Regions from separate parts of the Homo sapiens genome. Here region 2 is linked to region 1. The links come from fine-mapping of genetic effects on gene expression. A gene starts in region 1. The other region holds a variant in brackets. All regions are shown on one strand. Distances are between the middles of the regions.

Region 1 (4,391 bases):
ACGCAGTAAAAGCTTTAACAGTGCTTTCCCCAAGGGCATCTCGACTCTGACCTTCTGGCAAAGAAACTGGTTCTGCCAGATGGTAGGATGGAGGCTTCTTGTTGCCCGAACAGCCCCGGCAGCCCAGTCAACAGTCAGTGTCTGCTCTGAGCAAAAAACCTTTTAGGTGCTGGAGAGCACAGATGCTGCAGGCAACCTGCAGCCTGGCCTCTTGAATCCTAGTACCTGGCTTTCAACTCGAAACCGTCTGAGCCTTCATCTGTACAGTGCGGATGAAAACAGCTCCTACCTCACAACATTATTGTGAGGATTAAATGAAATGATGTAAGAAAAAAAAATTTAGCACAGGGTAGGGGGCAGAGTAAGGATACTCTGTGTGGGTTTATACATTTCCAATGTTATGTGTGCGTTTATGCAGATAAAATTCAGAGTGGCTGAAGAGATGAATTTTTTTTTTTTTTTTTTGAGACAGTGTCTTACTCTCACCCAGGAGTGCAGTGTTGTGATCGCAGCTCACTGCAGCCTCTACTTCCTGGGCTCGGGTGATTCTCCCACCTTAGTCTCTCAGGTAGCTGGGACTACAGGCGTGTGCCACCATGCCCAGCTAATTGTTATTTGTAGAGATGGGGTTTTGCCATGTTGCCCAGGCTGGTCTCAAACTCCCGCGCTCAAGTGATCCTCCTGCCTCGGCCTCCCAAATTGCTGAGATTACAGGTGTGAGCCATGCCCTGCCATGAAAAGACTAACTCTAGACTGCAATGGCTTTGAATAATTTTCTAAACGTTTAGAGTTTAGATTTTATTCCGTATCACAATTTGGAGCCACGGAAGTGTTTTTTTGTTTGTTTTTTGTTTTTTAAAGTGACACCATTAAAAATTCATTAAATACAGCTGGCTATTATCTGGCTAGACGTCTAAGCAAACTTCTTGAATGTTTGGAAAACAGATTACACTTTCACTAAGACACCTGTTGGTTTACCACATACTTCTTATTTGAATATGATTAGCATCAGAAAGTCCCTATGCTCAAAAATACCTCTTTTATCAAATTAGATTAACAAACTGCATCCCGTAAGATGCAGTAACTTTTCTTAAGATCCAATGGCTAGAATATAGGAATTTGGGTTGGATTGGGAAGTGGGGGATAACGGTGGCAAAAAATTGAAGATTAAAAAACGAAATACAGGCCGGGTGTGGTGGCTCACGCCTGTAATCCCAGCACTTTGAGTGGCTGAGACGGGCGGATCACGTGAGGTTAGGAGTTTGAGACCAGCCTGGCCAACATGATGAAATCCTGTCTCTACTAAAAATACAAAAATTAGGAGGGTGTGGTGGCAGGCGCCTGTAATCCCAACTACTCAGGAGGCTGAGGCAGGAGAATCGCTTGAGCCCAGGAGGCGGAGGTTGCAGTGAGCCGAGATTGTGCCACTGCACTCCAGCCTGGGCGACAGAAGGAGACTCCGTCTCAAAAATAACGAATTACATGAGATTTATAAAAAGTTGGTAAATATAAATTCTGTAACGTAAACTTGGGTATATATGTGTATACACGAACAAACTGTGAATGAGACTGATTTTGTACCGTTTGGCCCAGAATTATTCACGCTCATTGAAATTAGTGCTCTTTTAAAAGATTCACATTGGGTTACTTATACATTTACTCCAAAGAAATTGCCATTTTCCCCTTACCTGCATCTGGCTGGCATAATCAACTGAACAATATTCTCTTTCTTCCCCTTTTTCACTTACAAGTGGGGCAGAAAGGGGAGGAGAGCAGTCCTCATTCTTTCAGCAAACTTACTGTGCACTTACAACGCGCGAAGGCGCTGTGCTCAGAGAAACAAAACCTAACCGGTTGTGGCCCTCGAGGGTGTGTGGGTGGGGAGAGCTGCAGCCACAGGAAACGGTAACACGGCGCGTAAAGGGCTCTAATTGAACTTAAGGACCAATGGGGCCACCAAGCAGGAAGTGACTGACTTGCCCGCGTGTGTCTGAACCGCCTTCACAGGGAGGCAACTTTTGAGTAATTGCGGGGCTGGAGGGTGGGGGCACTGGAGGGAACCGCGGGGAGGCGCCGGCTTCGGACGCGGAGTTGTGGGTGTGGGAGAGAGGCGACCCAGAAGCCGAGGCCCGAGGCGGGAGGGGGCTGCGCCCTGGCAAGAGGCTTTCCGGAGTATCTTCCATCTGTCAATACAGGCTACAGGACTCAGTGGCCCTAATTCGAGAACCAAACGTCCCCCGCCGGTCAGTCTTTTCCCCCAGGGCAGTCCCAAGGGCGGCGAGCCCGCGCGCACGAGAGCCGAGCGGTAGGAAGAGCCGAGAGCTAGCGGCCGGGGCCTCGGCGGGCCAGGGGCGCGGAGAGGCCGCCGGAGAAAGGACTAAGACACCGGTGGACCGAGCAGTTACTCCCGGCATGCTCCTCCTCCCCGGGCAGATTTCAAACCCTCTGCAGCCCCACCTCCGCGCCTTCGCCCCCGGCCAGCCCCAGCAACAGGCGGCGGCCCGCTTCTCATTGGCCAGGCCCGCGCTGTCGTGTTTTGATTGGCCGCGGAGCCTCCCGGCCCTGCTTCTGCAGTCGCTGCCGACTCCATTTTGTCGGTAGAGGCAGAAGGAGAAGGTCGGGTTGTAGAAGCTGGGGTGGCCGGCAGCTCGCTCATCGGTGTTCGTGGGCTTTGTCGGTCCGTGCCTCGTCTCTCCCTGGAAAGGGAGGGAGGCTTCGACGTCGAGAGGGAGCCGCTGCCGCGTTAGTTCCGAGCTTGAAGTCAGTAAGTAGCGGCTGCGCTAAGGGCGCGGCCATGTTGGTGGCCGCGCTCCCCATTGTTGGAGGAAGGAGGCGAGCGGAGGCGAGATCCGGGTAACCCGGGCGGGCGCGGGCGGTCACGGGCGGTCGCAGCGCCGCGACCCCTGCGGCTCCGGAGAGATGGGGCCACTGGGAAGCCAAGCCCTTGTGGCGTCGGAGGAGGCGTTTTCCGGGTTCGAGTTGGGAATTACTCACAGTCCGGAAATGGCAATTTATTTAGGGTTGTTTATCTGTTTGGAAAGCTCTCTTACCCCTTTGAAAGGAGGGGGCTTAACTATTTGGTAACTTATTTTCTTGGAACATCAAATTAAAACCAAACCTTGAAAGTTAAGCTGTTCCCTCTAGGGAGACATTTTTATATATTTAAGATGGGCTTAGACTGTTAGGGCTTGTGAGAACTTATTTTAAGACGGGGAGGAGGCGAGAGCGTTCATAACCAAAGGAAACACTGCGTGATGTCTACATGTTCCAAGAGACTGAAAATGGATGTGACATGTGTGGAAAGATTGGAAAATTCTGGTGGGAGTTTAAAAACACGGTCTCTTTAGAAAATCCGCCTGAAGCCAATTTTTTGATATGACTCAACATTTAACACTTCCTTGATTTTATACGCGAGAGAATCTGAAGGTCTTTCCCAGGAAAAAGATAAAGATAAAACTTATTGCGGGACTTGGAGACACTTACAAAAATTCCCCAGGAGTGACTGGATCTCAAGGGTGAAGAGTTTTTTTAAATGGTCGTGGTTATAAGGTCAAAGAAAGCCATCTTACGAGAAATTTTCTACCTTTTAGTTCAGGAAGTAGCCTTCTTTACAGTCAACGATTTTCGTAGTAAATCTAAATGATCACTTTCTCAACGTGTTTTTGAAATAATGAAGTAATCTTTACTTTTCTAGCTAGGACTTCTCTCAAACTTGTGTGCTGAGGAGACTCAGATGTTGGCCTCAGCTCCTAGGCTGAACTCAGCAGATCGGCCCATGAAAACTTCTGTATTGAGACAAAGGAAGGGATCTGTCAGAAAGCAACACTTGTTATCTTGGGCTTGGCAGCAAGGAAGAGGACAGGTAGTGGAGATCCTGCAATCTGAAAAGCAGACTGAAAGGTAATCATCATAATGGGCAAACATTTTATGATGGAACCATCCTAAACCAATTGTTTTTATTTTAAAATAGATTATGTAGATTTGTGGGTAAGCTCATTTTTCTTAGGGAAGGTATAACAATAAAGGTTGTGCATATATTGAAGTCTGAACGGCTTGCTTTTTTGAGTTTAAAGCAGCTGAATAGCCTGTTATTGAGTCTTGTCCAAAATATCTGGAGTTATAAGTTGGAGCCATAGAAGCTTCTTAAAGATTTTGAACTTTTCTTAATGGAATTTTACTCAATATTTGTTTCCATTCACTTGTAGGTGACAAAGAAGCTGAAGATGGGTGGTGGAGAGAGGTATAACATTCCAGCCCCTCAATCTAGAAATGTTAGTAAGAACCAACAACAGCTTAACAGACAGAAGACCAAGGAACAGAATTCCCAGATGAAGATTGTTCATAAGAAAAAAGAAAGAGGACATGGTTATAACTCATCAGCAGCTGCCTGG
Region 2 (4,391 bases), 26 kb after region 1:
ACACCAGGGCCGGTAATTTTTCTGAAGACCCAAATGATAAGTTCTCTCTCTCTCTTTCTTTATTTTCCTTCTTTCCCTTTTTTTAGAGATGGAGTCTTGCTCTGTCGCCCAGGCTGGAGTGCAGTGGTAGGATCTCGGCTCACTGCAACCTCTGCCTCCCGGGTTCAAGCGATTCTTCTGCCTCAGCCTCCCAAGTAGCTGGGATTACAGATGCCCGCCACCTCACCTGGCTAAGTTTTTGTATTTTTAGTAGAGATGGGGTTTCACCATGTTGGCCAGGCTGGTCTCAAACTCCTGACCTCATGATCCACACGTCTCAGCCTCCCGAAGTGCTGGCATTACAAGCATGAGCCACCGTGCCCGGCCTCTTTCTTCTTTTCTTTCTTTCCTTGTTTTTTTTTTTTTTTTTTTTTGAGACAGTCTTGCTCTGTCTGGAGTATAGTGGTGCGATCACAGCTCACTGCAACCTCCACCTCCCAGGCTCAAATGATCCTCCCACCTCAGCCTCCCTAGTAGCTGGGACTACAGGTTCGTGCCACCATGCTTGGCTAATTCTGTAAGGTTTTTGTAGAGACGAGTTTTACTATATTGCTCAGGCTGGTCTCGAACTCCTGGGCTCAAGCAATCATCCTGCGTCAGCCTCCCAAATTGCTGGGATTACAGGTGTGAGCCCCTGCACTTGGCCTCCAAATGTTAATTTCTGAAAATGATCTGTTGGGTGCTGCACCTCTTCTTGAAGACACTATGTTTTATTGAGATTTATGTTAGAAAACCACTTTCCTTGGTACTGTTCTCAGAACTGCACAAATAAAACCCAAATGTAAACAATATAACTGAATTTCCTTGATCCTGAAATAGTTCTTCCTTGATTTGTGGGTAATGGCACACTCATTGAGCCATTCTGCTTGCTGGAAGGAGACTCACAGGGACAAATACTGTGTGTTAAGTCAGTGGAATTCTGAGCCTGACTCCATAGGCAGAACCAAAGCCTTGAGTCAATACAACATTAATTTTATTGGTACAATTGCTTAATTCAGACAACTGCCACAGACAGTGCTTGGTGTTGTGTCTCTGTCTCCATGAGCAAACAATCAATTAGAAGCATGTTCATTTAATTTGTTTGATAAGACATGCCTGGTATTTCCTATAAGCTGCCTCACTCTAGTGAGTGGGCAGCAAGCCAAGTTCTTCAGACTGCGAGAACTCAGTGTTCTCATTTAAACATTCCTTTACTTGTGAGTTGGAAACTTTTGGGCACATACATATGTACACATTTATCAATTTATTAATATCTATGTGCAGGCTCACCTTTCAACCCCTGCTCTGACTAATTTTGCTCTGTGGGAGAATTCATGGCTAATGGACATATTTTTTCACCACATTATTTTTTTAATTTTTATTTTTTTGAGACAGGGTCTCGCTCTGTTGCCCAGCCTGGAATGCAGTGGCAGAGTCATGACTTATTGCAGCCTTGACCTCCCAGGCTCAAGAGATCATCCCACCTCAGCCTCCCAAGTAGCTGAGACTGAGACGCAAGCCACCACGCCCCACTAATTTTTTTTTTCTAATTTTTTGTAGAGATGGAGTCTCACTACATTACCCAGGCCCATCTTGAACTCCTGGGCTCAAGCTGTCCTCCCACCGAGGCCTCCCAAAGTGTTGAGATTACAGGTGTGAGACACTACTTCTGGCTTAATGCCTTAAAATAACACTTTTCCTAGTTATACATGTTAAAACTTTGGAGATGAAAAATATAAAGGAAACAAAAATCACCTGTTATCCTACCACTCAGAACTAATTGCTATTAAAACTTCGATTATTATTATTATTTTGAGAAGGAGTTTTGCTCTTGTCACCCAGACTGGAGTGCAGTGGCGTGATCTCAGTTCCCTGCAAACTCCGCCTCCTGGATTCTCCTCCCTCAGCCTCTTGAGTAGCTGGGATTA[C/T]AGGCGCCTGCCACCATGCCCAGCTAATTTTTGTACTTTAAATAGAGACGAAGTTTCACCATGTTGGCCCGGCTGGTCTCGAACTCCTGACTTGAAGCGATCTGCCCACCTTGGCCTCCCAAAGTGCTAGGATTACAGGTGTGAGCCACCACGCCCGACCTAGAGTCTGACTCTTAAATGCTACATGACATCTCCCTGGAAAAGTAGATCAGGGAGCTCTGATTTACCAAGGAGTGCGTGTAGGGGCTGAGAAAAGGTAAGAACCTTTACCTTAAGACTTTATAGAATTCTCAAGGCTTACTGTTCTTTGTAGCCTGGTTATCTAGGCTAACATGTAACAATTGGTATCATGTAACAAAGGGCATGGGAAAGAACTGAATAAATACAATCATGGGCTTCATAACAAGGTTTTGGTCAATAATTGGCCCTGTATACCAGTAGTCTCCAACCTTTTTGGCACCAGGGACCAGTTTCTTTTTTTTGTTTGTTTGTTTGTTTTGTAATAGTTTTATAGGTTCATTTATTTATTACATTTAAATCTTTGCTTGTGTGAAATCTCTTTCAATGAAACTTGTGAGATAGGGATTTGAATTTATTTTTTCCAGTGGGCTACCCTATACTACAATACAATTCTGGATAACCTACCATTGCCCCTTTTTATTTTTTAGAGTCAGGATCTCACTCCATCACCCAGGCTGGAGTGCAGTGGTGCGATCATAGTGCACTACACCCTCAAGCTCCTGGGCTCAAGTAATTCTCCTACCTCAGCCTCCCAAGTATTAACAGGTAGGACTGCAGGCATGTGCCATCATGCCTAGCTAATTTTTTAAATTTTTGTAGAGACGGGTTTCAAACTCCTGACCTCAAGCAATTTTCCCACCTTTGCCTCAAAGTGTTGGGATGACAGGCGCGAACTATGACACCCTCCCTTCTCCATTGATTTGAAATGCCACTTTATGTATTTGGGTCATTTCTGGATGCTCTATGCTGTCTTATTCAAATGGATTAGTTATCCTAGCTTTATATTTTATTGGCTTGTTTAGCTATTTCTTTTCTTTTTTTTTTTTTATTGATCATTCTTGGGTGTTTCTCACAGAGGGGGATTTGGCAGGGTCATAGGACAATAGTGGAGGGAAGGTCAGCAGATAAACAAGTGAACAAAGATCTCTGGTTTTCCTAGGCAGAGGACCCTGCGGCCTTCCACAGTGTTTGTGTCCCTGGGTACTTGAGATTAGGGAGTGATGATGACTCTTAACGAGCATGCTGCCTTCAAGCATCTATTTAACAAAGCACATCTTGCACCGCCCTTAATCCATTTAACCCTGAGTGGACACCGCACATGCCCCAGAGAGCACAGGGCTGGGGGCAAGGTCACAGATCAACAGCATCCCAAGGCAGAAGAACCCCTCCCAGTACAGAACAAAATGAAGTCTCCCATGTCTACTTCTTTCTACACAGACACAGTAACAATCTGATTTCTCTATCTTTTCCCCACCTTTCCCCCTTTTCTATTCCACAAAACCGCCATCGTCATCATGGCCCGTTCTCAATGAGCTGTTGGGTACACCTCCCAGACGGGGTGGTGGCCGGGCAGAGGGGCTCCTCACTTCCCAGAAGGGGCGGCCGGGCAGAGGCGCCCCCCACCTCCCTCTCGGACGGGGCGGCTGGCCGGGTGGGGGCTGACCCCCACCTCCCTCCCGGACGGGGCGGCTGGCCGGGTGGGGGCTGAACCCCCACCTCCCTCCCGGAAGGGGCGGCTGGCCGGGCGGGGGCTGAACCCCCACCTGCCTCCCGGACGGGGCGGCTGGCCAGGCGGGGGCTGACCCGCCACCTCCCTACCAGGGACCAGTTTCATGGAAGACAGTTTTTCCATGGATCAAGGATGGGGGATGGTTTCAGGATGATTCAAGTACATTACATATATTGTGCGCTTTATTTATATTATTATTAAGCTGTATTATATAATGAAATAATTATATAGCTCATCATAGTGTAGAATCGGTGGGAGCTCTGAGCTTGTTTTCTTGCAACTAGGCGGTCCTATCTGGGGGTAATAGGAGACAGTGACAGATCATCAGGCATTAGATTCTCATAAGGAGCGTGCAACCTAGATCCCTCGCGTGCGCAGTTCACAGTAGGGTTCGTGCTCCTATGAGAATCTAATGCTGCCACCAATCTGACAGGAGGTGGAGCTCAGGTGGTAATGCAAGTGATGGGGGGTGGCTGTAAATACAGATGAAGCTTCGCTTGCTCACCCGCTGATCACCTCTGGTGGTGTGGCCTACTTCCTAACAGGCCGCAGACTGGTACTGGTCTGTGGCCTGGGGTTTGGGGACCCCACCTATATACAATGGGGCTCCCATGAGATTATAATGAGCTGATTATAAAGATTATAGAATTATAGCGATGTCATAGCTGTCTTAATGTCATAAGTTAATGTCATTA

Evidence for each region. PIP is the estimated chance that this variant, and not a neighbour inherited with it, causes the effect.
Region 2: its variant is the best candidate, but not a certain one, in a credible set for the expression of PNRC2 in whole blood (INTERVAL, PIP 0.81).

What each region holds. Positions count from the first base shown.
Region 1 is chr1:23,957,235-23,961,625 of GRCh38, forward strand. It overlaps PNRC2 (proline rich nuclear receptor coactivator 2), which reads left to right and starts at 2,594. Exons shown (of 3, transcript NM_017761.4): 1 at 2,594-2,764; 2 at 3,695-3,900; 3 at 4,206-4,391. The coding sequence starts at 4,224. It overlaps LOC124903877 (a long non-coding RNA gene), which reads right to left and starts at 880. Exons shown (of 4, transcript XR_007065541.1): 1 at 868-880. RefSeq lists enhancers at 824-1,452, 1,631-1,690, 2,591-2,860 and silencers at 1,771-1,870, 2,281-2,390.
Region 2 is chr1:23,983,543-23,987,933 of GRCh38, forward strand. It overlaps LOC105378615 (a long non-coding RNA gene), which reads right to left and starts at 4,246. Exons shown (of 2, transcript XR_947070.1): 1 at 4,202-4,246; 2 at 3,866-3,990. The variant C/T (reference allele first, on the strand shown) is at 1,947.